Regions from separate parts of the Homo sapiens genome. Here region 2 is linked to region 1. The links come from fine-mapping of genetic effects on gene expression. A gene starts in region 1. The other region holds a variant in brackets. All regions are shown on one strand. Distances are from middle to middle. Region 1 holds the start of MS4A6A (membrane spanning 4-domains A6A). Region 2 has its middle 5.2 kb from the start of MS4A4A.

Region 1 (5,388 bases):
CAATCTTTAACGAGGCCCAAGGTGCAGCACAGGGCTGTCTGCCTGTAGATTTCATTTCTGCCTTTTAGTTTTTACTTCTTCTTTCTTTGGGGGCAGAAACTGTGCATAAGACAATATGAGGGGTGGTCTCCTCCCTTAGAGACAGAGCAAACATGGAACAGAAAGTAGGATGGTGGTTACTAGGGGCTAGGAATAGGAAGGAAAGGGGTGGTTGTTCAATGGGTATAGAGTTTCAGTTCTGCAAGATGAAAAAGTTCTAGAGGTCTGTTACACAACAATGTGAACAAAATTAATACTAGTGGTCTGTACACTAAAAAGTGGTTAAAATAATGAATTATATGTGTTTTGTACCACAATTTAAAATTTTAAAAATAAAAGTTGAGAAATTGATTTAAAGAAAATATTGTTCTGTTTCTAGCACACCTGCCTTTACACAGAACACACAAAAACCCTTTTGCTCCTAGGTCAGTAGCTCTCAACATGAATGTGAGGGGATTTTGTTCTCCCTCCATCAGGAGACATTTGACAATATCAGATACTGTTTCTGGTTGTTACACATAGGGTGGGATTGTGCTGGCATAGGCCAGGGAGTCTGCTAAGCATCCTACAGTGCACAGGATAGCCACCTACTGTAAAGAATTACCCAGTCCAAAGTGGCATTAGTAGCTTTTTTGAGAAACCTGTCCCAGATCATTAATCAGAACGTGTTATTGATATACCAGTCTTCTCCCTTGTAGTTAGGTTGGTAGAATTCAGACTCTGGAAAAAACTGGGAATGTAAAAGGCTGAATGAGTGTAAGCTGAAAGACAAGAGAAAGGAGAATTGTTTTAAGCTTACTAAAGCCAAAATGGAAAAAAAAAGAGGGGGGAGGATTGGGGGGTGAGGAAGACAGTCAACAGACCGCTTTTAGGCCATCATTCCGAAGGGTTCTGTGCTAGGAACCTTACACGTGTTGTCTCACATAATCCTTAAAACTCAGAAATGATTTTAAATTAAATAGCACAGAGAGGAAAACTGACTGGAGAGGGAGCCTTTGCTTAGGTAGGCAACTTTAACTGGTTTATTAGCACATTCCCCTGAAGGGAAAGGGGGTGTGATTGCTCCTGAAGAGACCAAAGAGACTGGGCTCCTTTTTAATCAAAGCTCAGGAGGAGAGCTGCATTCCACTGTTTCACAGATGCTGTGAGGGTGACAAAGATGCAGGGCACCCACTGGAAACACAGACGGCACTCTGCGAAAGAGGAAGGGGCGCCAGGAGCTTGGGTGAGCAAGGTTGGAGGTGATTCTGCCCCTCTCCCCAGGCTTTCTGTGTGAGTCCATTCCTCCTCTCAGATTTATTGTTAGAACTTAAGACAAGCCAATTACATTTCATAATGTCTGTGTCATTCAGACGCTGAGAACTAATCCAGCCTTCTAAATGGTGCTTCTTAACTCCTTTCTTCAACAGGAGAGTTAATGTGTGGAATTAAGTGCAGAATCCATGGCCCTCTGTGGTGACGGTGATGGTTCAGGTTGTGTTTCTGGGTTCATTCTGGAAGCTCCCCCAAGGAAAGGAGGAAGGAAGCTTGCAGGGTGGGGCTTTGCCATTGCCCTGACTGGCTCTGGTTTCCTTGCCTGATACATTGAAGTCAGCTTCCAAAGAATGCCACCCAAGGTTTTGAAGGGGCACAGTGCCTCTGTCCTCACAAAACCAGCCTGCATATGAGTTTACTGAATTCATTTAGGTCCTGCTGAATCTTTCCCATTTGTTCCTTCTCTGTTTCAATATTTCAATGCTTCCCTGGAGGGGCCCAACCTTTCTGGAGGGCAAAGATCTGTTGTTAGAGAAAAAGAGCAGCCAGAGGAGGAAGATGACTTGAGGGTAGGCAGCAGTTGGGCAATCAGTATTGAAAGGTTGCTTTCAGCCTGCCAAGACTTGGGGAATTAGAAAAGCAAGATAAAACAAAACAAACAAACAAACTATATATATAAAAAACAATTTTTTAAAAGTTTTTTTATGTTCTATATTACTATTAGCTATATATTAATGAATGTTCCTTTAAAGCAGTGTAGTCATTATTGCTATTATTATTATTATGGTTAGTTATAGACAGTGGAATATTGTTCTTTCTCTATATTATGATTACTAGCACTATTACTGTTATTAGTTACATGTTATTGAAAGCTTCAAAGCAGCATAGGCTTTTTATAAATATTTTTGCTCATCTTTATGACAATTCTCCAGTGTTGGTATTGCTCCTCTATTTAACAGATTAGAAAACTGAAGCTTCAAGAACAGACTTGCCTAACAACAGGAAACTTGTATGTCTCGAAGTGGCAATTCACACATAAGGCTCCATGACTCCTGAACTCTCACAAATATTAGTTGGCTCTTTTCATGGTTTTACTGAAGTTGCTAGAAGTTTACAGAAAAGGAAGTGCAGGAACATTTCACAAATCTACAATCTGTGAGTATCACATCCTGTATAGCTGTAAACACTGGAATAAGGAAGGGCTGATGACTTTCAGAAGATGAAGGTAAGTAGAAACCGTTGATGGGACTGAGAAACCAGAGTTAAAACCTCTTTGGAGCTTCTGAGGACTCAGCTGGAACCAACGGGCACAGGTAGGTAATGCTGGAAGACTTTTCTCATCTCACTATTCCCTTGCCGTGACCTCATTAGAGGAGTAATTTAACTTGAAACTCCTTGACAGCAGTTAAGAGACACTAGGGCCTTTTGGAAATAGAGTGGGCAAATGGAAGGAGTATCTGTTTTTAACTCTGTGTCCGCTGTATTCTAATTGCATAAACTCAGTGAGTCACTTACCTAAGGTTGTGTAATTAATGGGAGCAGAGCTCTTGTCTCTTCAAATGTGTTTAGACCATTTGTAAACTGGGCGGTCTGTGCTTTGAGAATGGTGCCGTGAAAAGGGATCCAAGCTGAGCTTAGCAACAAATACCACAACCTACTTGGTCTTTATGCTAAAAAGTGGGGAGGACCAACGACGCGAGCCTATGTGTTATGAGTCCAAGACTTGTTCTCATACCACTGCATGCAGCTGTTTCTCCAGCCTGAGTAAACTCAGACACAGGCTGGCAATGCCAGGTGGGAAATTAGGAAGAGGTAGAATGATCTAGAGATTTATGCAAAGGCTTCAGACTCCAGGAAAGCTGAGATCCAAGACTGGTTTTACAGCTTCCCGGCTGTGTGAACCAGGGTGAACAATAAGGGTAACTGCAAATATTTCTTCAGCATTAACTCTGGGCCACACATATATGCAATAGGTATATTATTTGCATTCATAACTTAAACTTTATTTTGCATTTTCTTATTTATTACATGTTTTTACTAACTTACTAACATGCAGAGCTGTTGTAAGGATTAAAAGCACTGCAGGGTAAAAATTAAGAATGTGTCTGGTAAAATATGATAAACATATCTGAGTGCTAATAAATAGTATTATTAAACAAGAAATAAGTAAGCAGAGTTCATTTATTAGTCTGAAAATTCATCAAATATATGGCAATACAGTTGTTGTCAGTAGGACTAGAGGAAAGGGAGGTTGTTGCATATTGCAAATTTTGTGTGACCATTTGCCTCTGGACATTGAGACCTCTCAAGATTCATGTTGCTGCCACCCTGTGATGTGTTTATTATCTATAATGGACTGTGTCAAACATTATGGAAAAATCCTCATGAAACCAAGATTGTGTGGTTTTCACTGTTCCATACTATCAGTTTCTTTCTCTAATGGACAGGCCAAGCCTAGACTAATTGGCAAAGACTGAGTTACTGTTTTTGGAGTCAGAACCTGGGAGCTCTGTACTTTTTAAGAGCTAAATCTATTTTTTCTTACATAGTTGGCAACACCATCATGACATCACAACCTGTTCCCAATGAGACCATCATAGTGCTCCCATCAAATGTCATCAACTTCTCCCAAGCAGAGAAACCCGAACCCACCAACCAGGGGCAGGATAGCCTGAAGAAACATCTACACGCAGAAATCAAAGTTATTGGGGTAAATCTAATTCAGAACGTGTTGGAGAGGGGTTGGGGGAAGTGCCAAGAGATGATATATGTCTTGGGACTGGACATCTGTCGTGAGTGTGGAGACCCTAAAATTTTGCTAGAGGGACTTTAGGGTAGAAGCCACTTGGAGAAAACTGTCCCAGAACTTTTCCACAAGAGGTTGTCTTAAAAATATATTTTCCCTTATTCTGAATATGAGGAATTGATTTTCTATTGTTGTCTTTGTATTTTTACAATACAGTGCTTTTCTATATTTTCTTTTACAAAAGTAATGGTGGTAAATAATGACATATTGTGTGTATGTGTATATATTCCACAACTGCATGCTTAATAATCCAAACTGACTTTTTGCAAATAATTTTTCCCTCACTGCAAATTAGAGGAAATATACAACTCCTTTTCCTCTTTTCTCCTAACGTTTTTGAGAATGGAAATGATATTCACCTTTTGTTTGTCTGTTTCTCCTCTCACCCAGAATTTATTAAAGAAGCTGTATTGCATGAAGGGAGGAGAGAAAGAAGGGATCTATCTTGGATTGGGAGGGAAACACAGAGTTTTGGTTTCTAGAATTGCCTCTGCACTTATGTGATCTGAGGTGAGGCACTCTGTTTGACTGGATTTCAGGACCTGGTGGGACTGGTTTCCTTGCCTCATGTACAATCACATGGGTTTCTATGAGGCTCATGTGACATAAGGTCTAGAAAACTTTTTGGTAAATGATAATAGAGCTGTGAATCTCTGAGGTGGATGTCAGGAAGGAAAACTACCTCCTAAGACAGAGCTTCAGTTATACATGAGAACATGCAGTATTTGGTTTCTGTCCCTGTGTTAGTCTGCTAAGGGGGATGGCCTCTAAATGATGAGAACACATGGACACGTAGAACAGAACAATGCACACTGAGGCCTTTCAGAGGGTGGAGGGTGGGAGGAGAGAGAGGATCAGGAAAAATAACTAATGGATACTAGGCTTAATACCTGGGTGATGAAATAATCTGTACAGCAAACCCCCATGACACAAGTTTATCTATGTAACAGACATGCAGTTGTACCCTTGAACTTAAAATAAAAGCTAAAAATAAAAGAGCTTCCAGAGCTTCAGCTATAGGGTTGTGAACTGCAGTTTCCGAGGAAGTGACCAAAGGGGCAAACTCCATGTCCAGTGGAGTCTGGGAGATGAGGGGAGGGCCTTCTGCACTGCCAATACTGCAGAGAATGTGGGGGCTTTCAGATGTCCCCTGTTTTCAGAGAGATAGAAAGAGAGTTAACTAGTCATGGACTTAGAGGTCCTGAGAGCTGGGAAAGTAAATCTCAGCACTTGCTGTGAGCTGGAAGCAAGTCTCATGAGCAGACCAGGGCCTGAGAGGCAGAAATGCA
Region 2 (5,388 bases), 93 kb before region 1:
TTGAATCCTATGCCCTATGTGAGCTGGAGCAAGTTGCTTAGGCTTTCTGCACCTCAGTTTACTCATCTGTAAAATATAGATAGTAATATGTCATAGCGTTGTTGAAAGGGTTATATTAGGTAATATAAATAAATTACTTATCATTTTTTGAGCACAGAAATATTTCAGTAGGAAGAAATCATTCAATTATTATTAAATACTTCAGAGAGACAAGCTAACAACAGTAAAATGTTCACTGGATTTAGCCTGAAAGAAATCATTAGTGCCCCCTTCCCCAGTTCCCAATCAATTTTCTTTCTCCAGAAGCAAGTATTTAAATTTTAATTGTTTCTTTTTGTGTTGACTCCATATTTCTAAGTGAATGATTTTAAATACTGTTCTAATTTTTGGTTTTATATATTATGCACTAACCTCCTACTACTGAAGACAATAGACTAACCCCTATATCCTTCATTTTTACCCTGGACACACCTTCCCACCATAACACTTCCTTTTCCCTCATTCTCCCATATAGTTTTATCACGATTTTTTAGTTAACTCAATTTATAGTATTTAAATCATTAATGGCTAATTCATTATGAGTGTTATGATTACGCTTCCTTTTGACCATTTTTCTCTCTGAAGTTAGTAACTGCCTCATGTTTCATATGCTGTTTTCTACATACCTGAAAATAAGTTGTTTTAAATACTCCACCATAAATGTAAATCTCAGTGTCTATAGACCCACAGGTAATTGATCTGTTTCATTAGTATTTTTCTGTATACACTCTCCCTTCCTGGCGCCTTATATTCTCCTATTCCAGTTAGGACTGGTTATACTCTAGGCCTTCAGGGATCTTAATTCACTATTCTCAGGGAATTCACTTACTTAAGTATTCACTATTGATATGGTTTGGCAGTGTCCCCACCAAATTTCATCTTGAATTGTAGCTACCATCATTCCCACATGTTGTGGGAGGGAACCACTGGGAGATAATTGAATCATGGGGGCGTGTTCCCCCATACTTTTCTCGTGGTAATGAATAAGTCTCACCAGATCTGATGATTTTATAAGTGGTTTTCCCTTTTGCTTGGCTCTCAATCTCTCTTGTCTGCCGCCATGTAAGATGTGCATTTTGCCTTCCACCATGATTCTGAGGCCTCCCCAACCATGTGGAACTGTGAGTCCATTAAACCTCTTTTTCTTTGTAAATTACCCAGTCTTGGTTATGTCTTTTTTAGCAATGTGAGAACATACTAATACAACTACCTTCTCAGACAATTAGCTGTGTCCCCAGACATATTCAACTGAAAGCACTTATAATTCTTGAGACTTACTGGGGTTCTACAAAGAGAATCAAATTTTTTCTAAGCTTCCAATTCCGTCAGTCAGGTTTTCACTTTCCGGAGGCTGCTAAGTCATTTATTGCTTGTCTAGCTGGTTTCTAACATTTAAAAAAATGATCCAATTTCTCTCATATTATTTTTGAATTTTTGGATTTATGACTTTCTCCCAGACCCTTTATAGTCATTTAGTTGGGTTTCATGAGGAAATAGATGTGTTTAATCCACCAAGATTAGCCATTATTTGAAAATTATATTTTTATAAGTGTTTTTCTTACCAGTTCATTGTATCTCTGAGGACAGATAATGTATCTTATTTATCTTTTTGATTTCAACATTTCTCAATGTCTGACACCAGGTAGGAACATTTCTGTTGAATGCTATTGGGTGGGTAAAATAGAAACAATGCAGAGAATGGATGTAGGTGGCACATCAGTCAGCAGTGAACTGAGATACAGTATCAGAGAAAATTATATTACAATCTCAGCTAAAGAGATTGGTAAAAGCCTTAGAGATATCTGGAATAAAAGATTAGAACAGAGGGAAAATGTGAAAACAAATATATTAGGAAGTAGGAGTCATGTAAAGTTGAGGTGATAGATCTAAGCACTGTAATTCCTCATTTTGAATCTAGAAAAAATATTATTTTGTATCCTTTTAATAAAAATATTTTTCCAGTGCCTATATAATTCTAAATTAAAAGCACAAAATGTTTTTTTTTCCCATATGGGTTTCCTTTGTGCTTAAGAAATGGTTCTTCAAATAGTACATATGTAGCAAAGAAAGGTATTATTCTTAAGAAAACACTCTTAAAATTCTTAACACTTAACCTCAGATACTGGTGCCTATGTATATTAATATGCAAAATAAATGCCAGTGTCCCCTAAGGACAGGGTCTGTTTAATGACAATAGCCCAACTCGTCTATGCTGACACCAAAGTAGTGTATACAAATCACATTCTTCTCTTCTTTATCATTACAAGATCTCTTAGCTCTGACCAATTTACTGCTCTGCAACCATTTTTGCCAACTAATGAAATTAAGTTTTAATCTGAAACTCTTAGAAAATGACTTACAGCCAATCAAGTCAGTCAAATTGAACAAATATATAAGTTATCAAAGGAAACAAAAGCTTTCTTTTTTTTATTTCATCACATGCCTTCTAAAGGCCCACAATTATAGAGATGTCTAATCTCACTTCCCTTGAACATTGAGTTTCACAGAGGATAATAATCACCAACTATCTCTGGCAAGTAATTTCCCAACATTTTCATTTCATCAAGTGTCCTAAAGTCATGTTTCTAATACACCGGATTTTATCTTGTGAATTTGAGGCAGTTAAAATAAATTCCACAAAAAGCTAAAAAAATGCCAGTAG[T/C]TATTCAAAACCAGCTTTAGTGTTTTGATATATTTTTTACAGTCTCTCCTTTGAATTATGAACACAGATTCCTTAGCTATTCCAGGCTACCTGTACTATATTCAGAAATCCAAGCAAATACTATTCTCCAGCAGTCACTCATTATAATTTGCTTTAATGAAACAGTGGATGAATTAAAACTATGTTATAAACATTTTGATAGGCCAACGGACTTTGATTCAACAAGATTATGGCTCTTGTTATGGTTTCTAGGAAAAAAGTATTAAAACCATAAGATTAAGAGCTAAGAGGGAGCACGGATGATCAATGATACTAAGGGAAAACCAGGACACAGAGAATACATGAAGTCTCCTCACATGTGCAAGAAATATTTACTGTGAAGAATGTCTGAGAAAGAAAGTGGCTGAAGACAGTAAGGTACATCGCTGGGAGTGAGATGATCCAAGTTTTAATCTCAACTCAGAAACTAAACTCAATGCGATGTAGAGTAATATTTGTTTCTTCATCCTCAGAGTTAGAATAGGTACGTTCTAAGGACCAGCCGGCCTGATCTCCAGTGATTCTACACCTGGTTCGTTCTTCCCATCTGATTATCTCATTGCCAATATGAACCAGCTTTTTTAAGCACCACCCTTGCCATAAATACTGCCTACCATGTGTATCTCATCACCACCACATTTCATGAGTATTTTTCTTCCAATATGAGGATATTAATTCACAAATCCCAGGCCTTGAGATATACTGAGCTCTATGGAACATGCTGGCACTCTTAAAATGGAAGAGTTTGAGTTGACCTGTGTACAACATAGCAACACACATAGGCAGAACTCCAGGGCTGAAAGACCTAACATCTCAACCAGTGTCTACTGTAACAAGGAAGTGTGACTGGTGCCTGAACCTTTAACCTCCAACATTTTAAATACTTCATTTCACCCCCTTCTTGTTTGCATAGTTTCTGAAAAGAAGACTAATGTAATACTTATCCTTGTTCCTCTCTAGTTAAGTTTCCTTTTCTCCTTTATTGCTTCTTTCAAAATTTTCTCTGTCTTTGATTTTCTGTTTTTGAATATTATATACCTATGTATAGATGTTTTACTCTTTACTATGCATGGTATTTTCTGAGCTTCCTGGATTTGTGATTTGGCATCTGTTACTAATTTTGGAAAAATCTCAGTCATTATTTAAACTTCAAATATTTCTTCTCTTCCTTTCTTTCTTGTTTCTTTTTATGGTATTTCCATTATGTGTAATGTTATTCTTTTTGTAGTTGTCCTGCACTTTGGGGTTGTTCTGTTCTTTTTTTTTCCATTTTTTTTCCCTTTGCTCTTCAGTTTCGGAAGTTTTTATTGACGTATCTTCAAGCTCACTGACTCTTTCCTCTGACATGCCTAGTATACTGATGAAATTATCAAAAACATTTTTAAAATTTTTATTACTGTATTTTACATTTCTAGCATTACCTTTTCATTCTTTCCTAGAAATTTCTTCTCTCTGCTTATCATATCTGTTTATTCATGTATGTTGTATGCTTTTCCTGTTAAAGTCCTTATAATATTAATCATAGTTATTTTACATTTCTGATCCGATAATTCCAAAATCTCTGCCGCATTTGAATCTTGTTCTGTTGCTTGCTTTGTTTCTTCACACTTTGTCTTTTACCTTTTAACATACATTGTAATTTTTTTTTTGATAGCTGGACATAAAAGGAAGTAAAGTAAATAGGCCTTTTATGTAAGGTATTATGTTTATCTGGCTAGAAGTTAGGCTGCATTTATTGTTTGTTGTAGCTATTTGGGTCAAAGGCTGAAATGTCCTGTAATGTCCTTGTTTTGGTCTCCCCTATTATTATTGGATCTCCCTAGACACCACTTCTTAAATAGGGTCTGAGGTTTACAGTTCATTCACTATAATCTCCTGTTATCATACAGGATCCTGATTCATCTGATGGTAGTGTAGAGTGAGGGGAAACATCCTCTAGTATCATAATTAGGTCTCAGCCTTTTAGCAACTTGTGCTTCTCAGTTATCAACTTCACAAATGCTTCTTAGCCCCTACCTGAACTTAAGTCAGGCAGGATACGAGAGAGAGATGTAGCTGAATATTCAGTTTCCCCACGTGGAAGGATAGAGGAAGGTGGAGTTGTGTATTGACCTTTTCCAAGACTGGTTAGGTTTTGGTATTATCCAAATCAATCAGAATCAATCAGAATCTGAAAAAATAGTTTCCCTTGAGGGAAGACTTTTTTTGTTAAAGACAACAGAATGCCCTGGAGTATTTAAAAAATGGTTATATTACCTTCCTTAATCAGAAGCACAAGATTTTTCTCTGTTCTTTACACTAAATACCTGCTAGGACACTTTGAGGTAAAAGCCATGCAAGTGTTTGACCTCTCCCCAGGACTGGGCCTCATGGAGTTTCAGCTCCCAAGTTAGTCCACATTGAACATCCAGCAGTTCATCGGTTATAATTGATGTGTTCCTATTGTGCTTCTGCTCCTGGTAAGCTGGGAAGCTCTGTTTGGGCCTTCCTGTCCAAATTTCGGGACAAAAATTCAAGTCTGCATAATAACCAACTGACAACATGATGTCAAGATCAAACCTGCACATATCAATATTAACCTTGAATATGAATGGGATAAATGCACCAATTAAAAGGCACAAAGTGGCAAATTGGATAAAGAGGCAAGA

What was found.
Region 2: its variant is fine-mapped to the expression of MS4A6A in whole blood (TOPMed, PIP above 0.99).

What each region holds. Positions count from the first base shown.
Region 1 is chr11:60,180,196-60,185,583 of GRCh38, reverse strand. It overlaps MS4A6A (membrane spanning 4-domains A6A), which reads left to right and starts at 2,501. Exons shown (of 6, transcript NM_022349.4): 1 at 2,501-2,606; 2 at 3,843-4,003. The coding sequence starts at 3,857. RefSeq lists an enhancer at 115-274.
Region 2 is chr11:60,272,814-60,278,201 of GRCh38, reverse strand. No RefSeq gene overlaps it. Among named protein-coding and RNA genes, the nearest start is that of MS4A4A, 5.2 kb to the left of the region's middle. The variant T/C (reference allele first, on the strand shown) is at 2,702.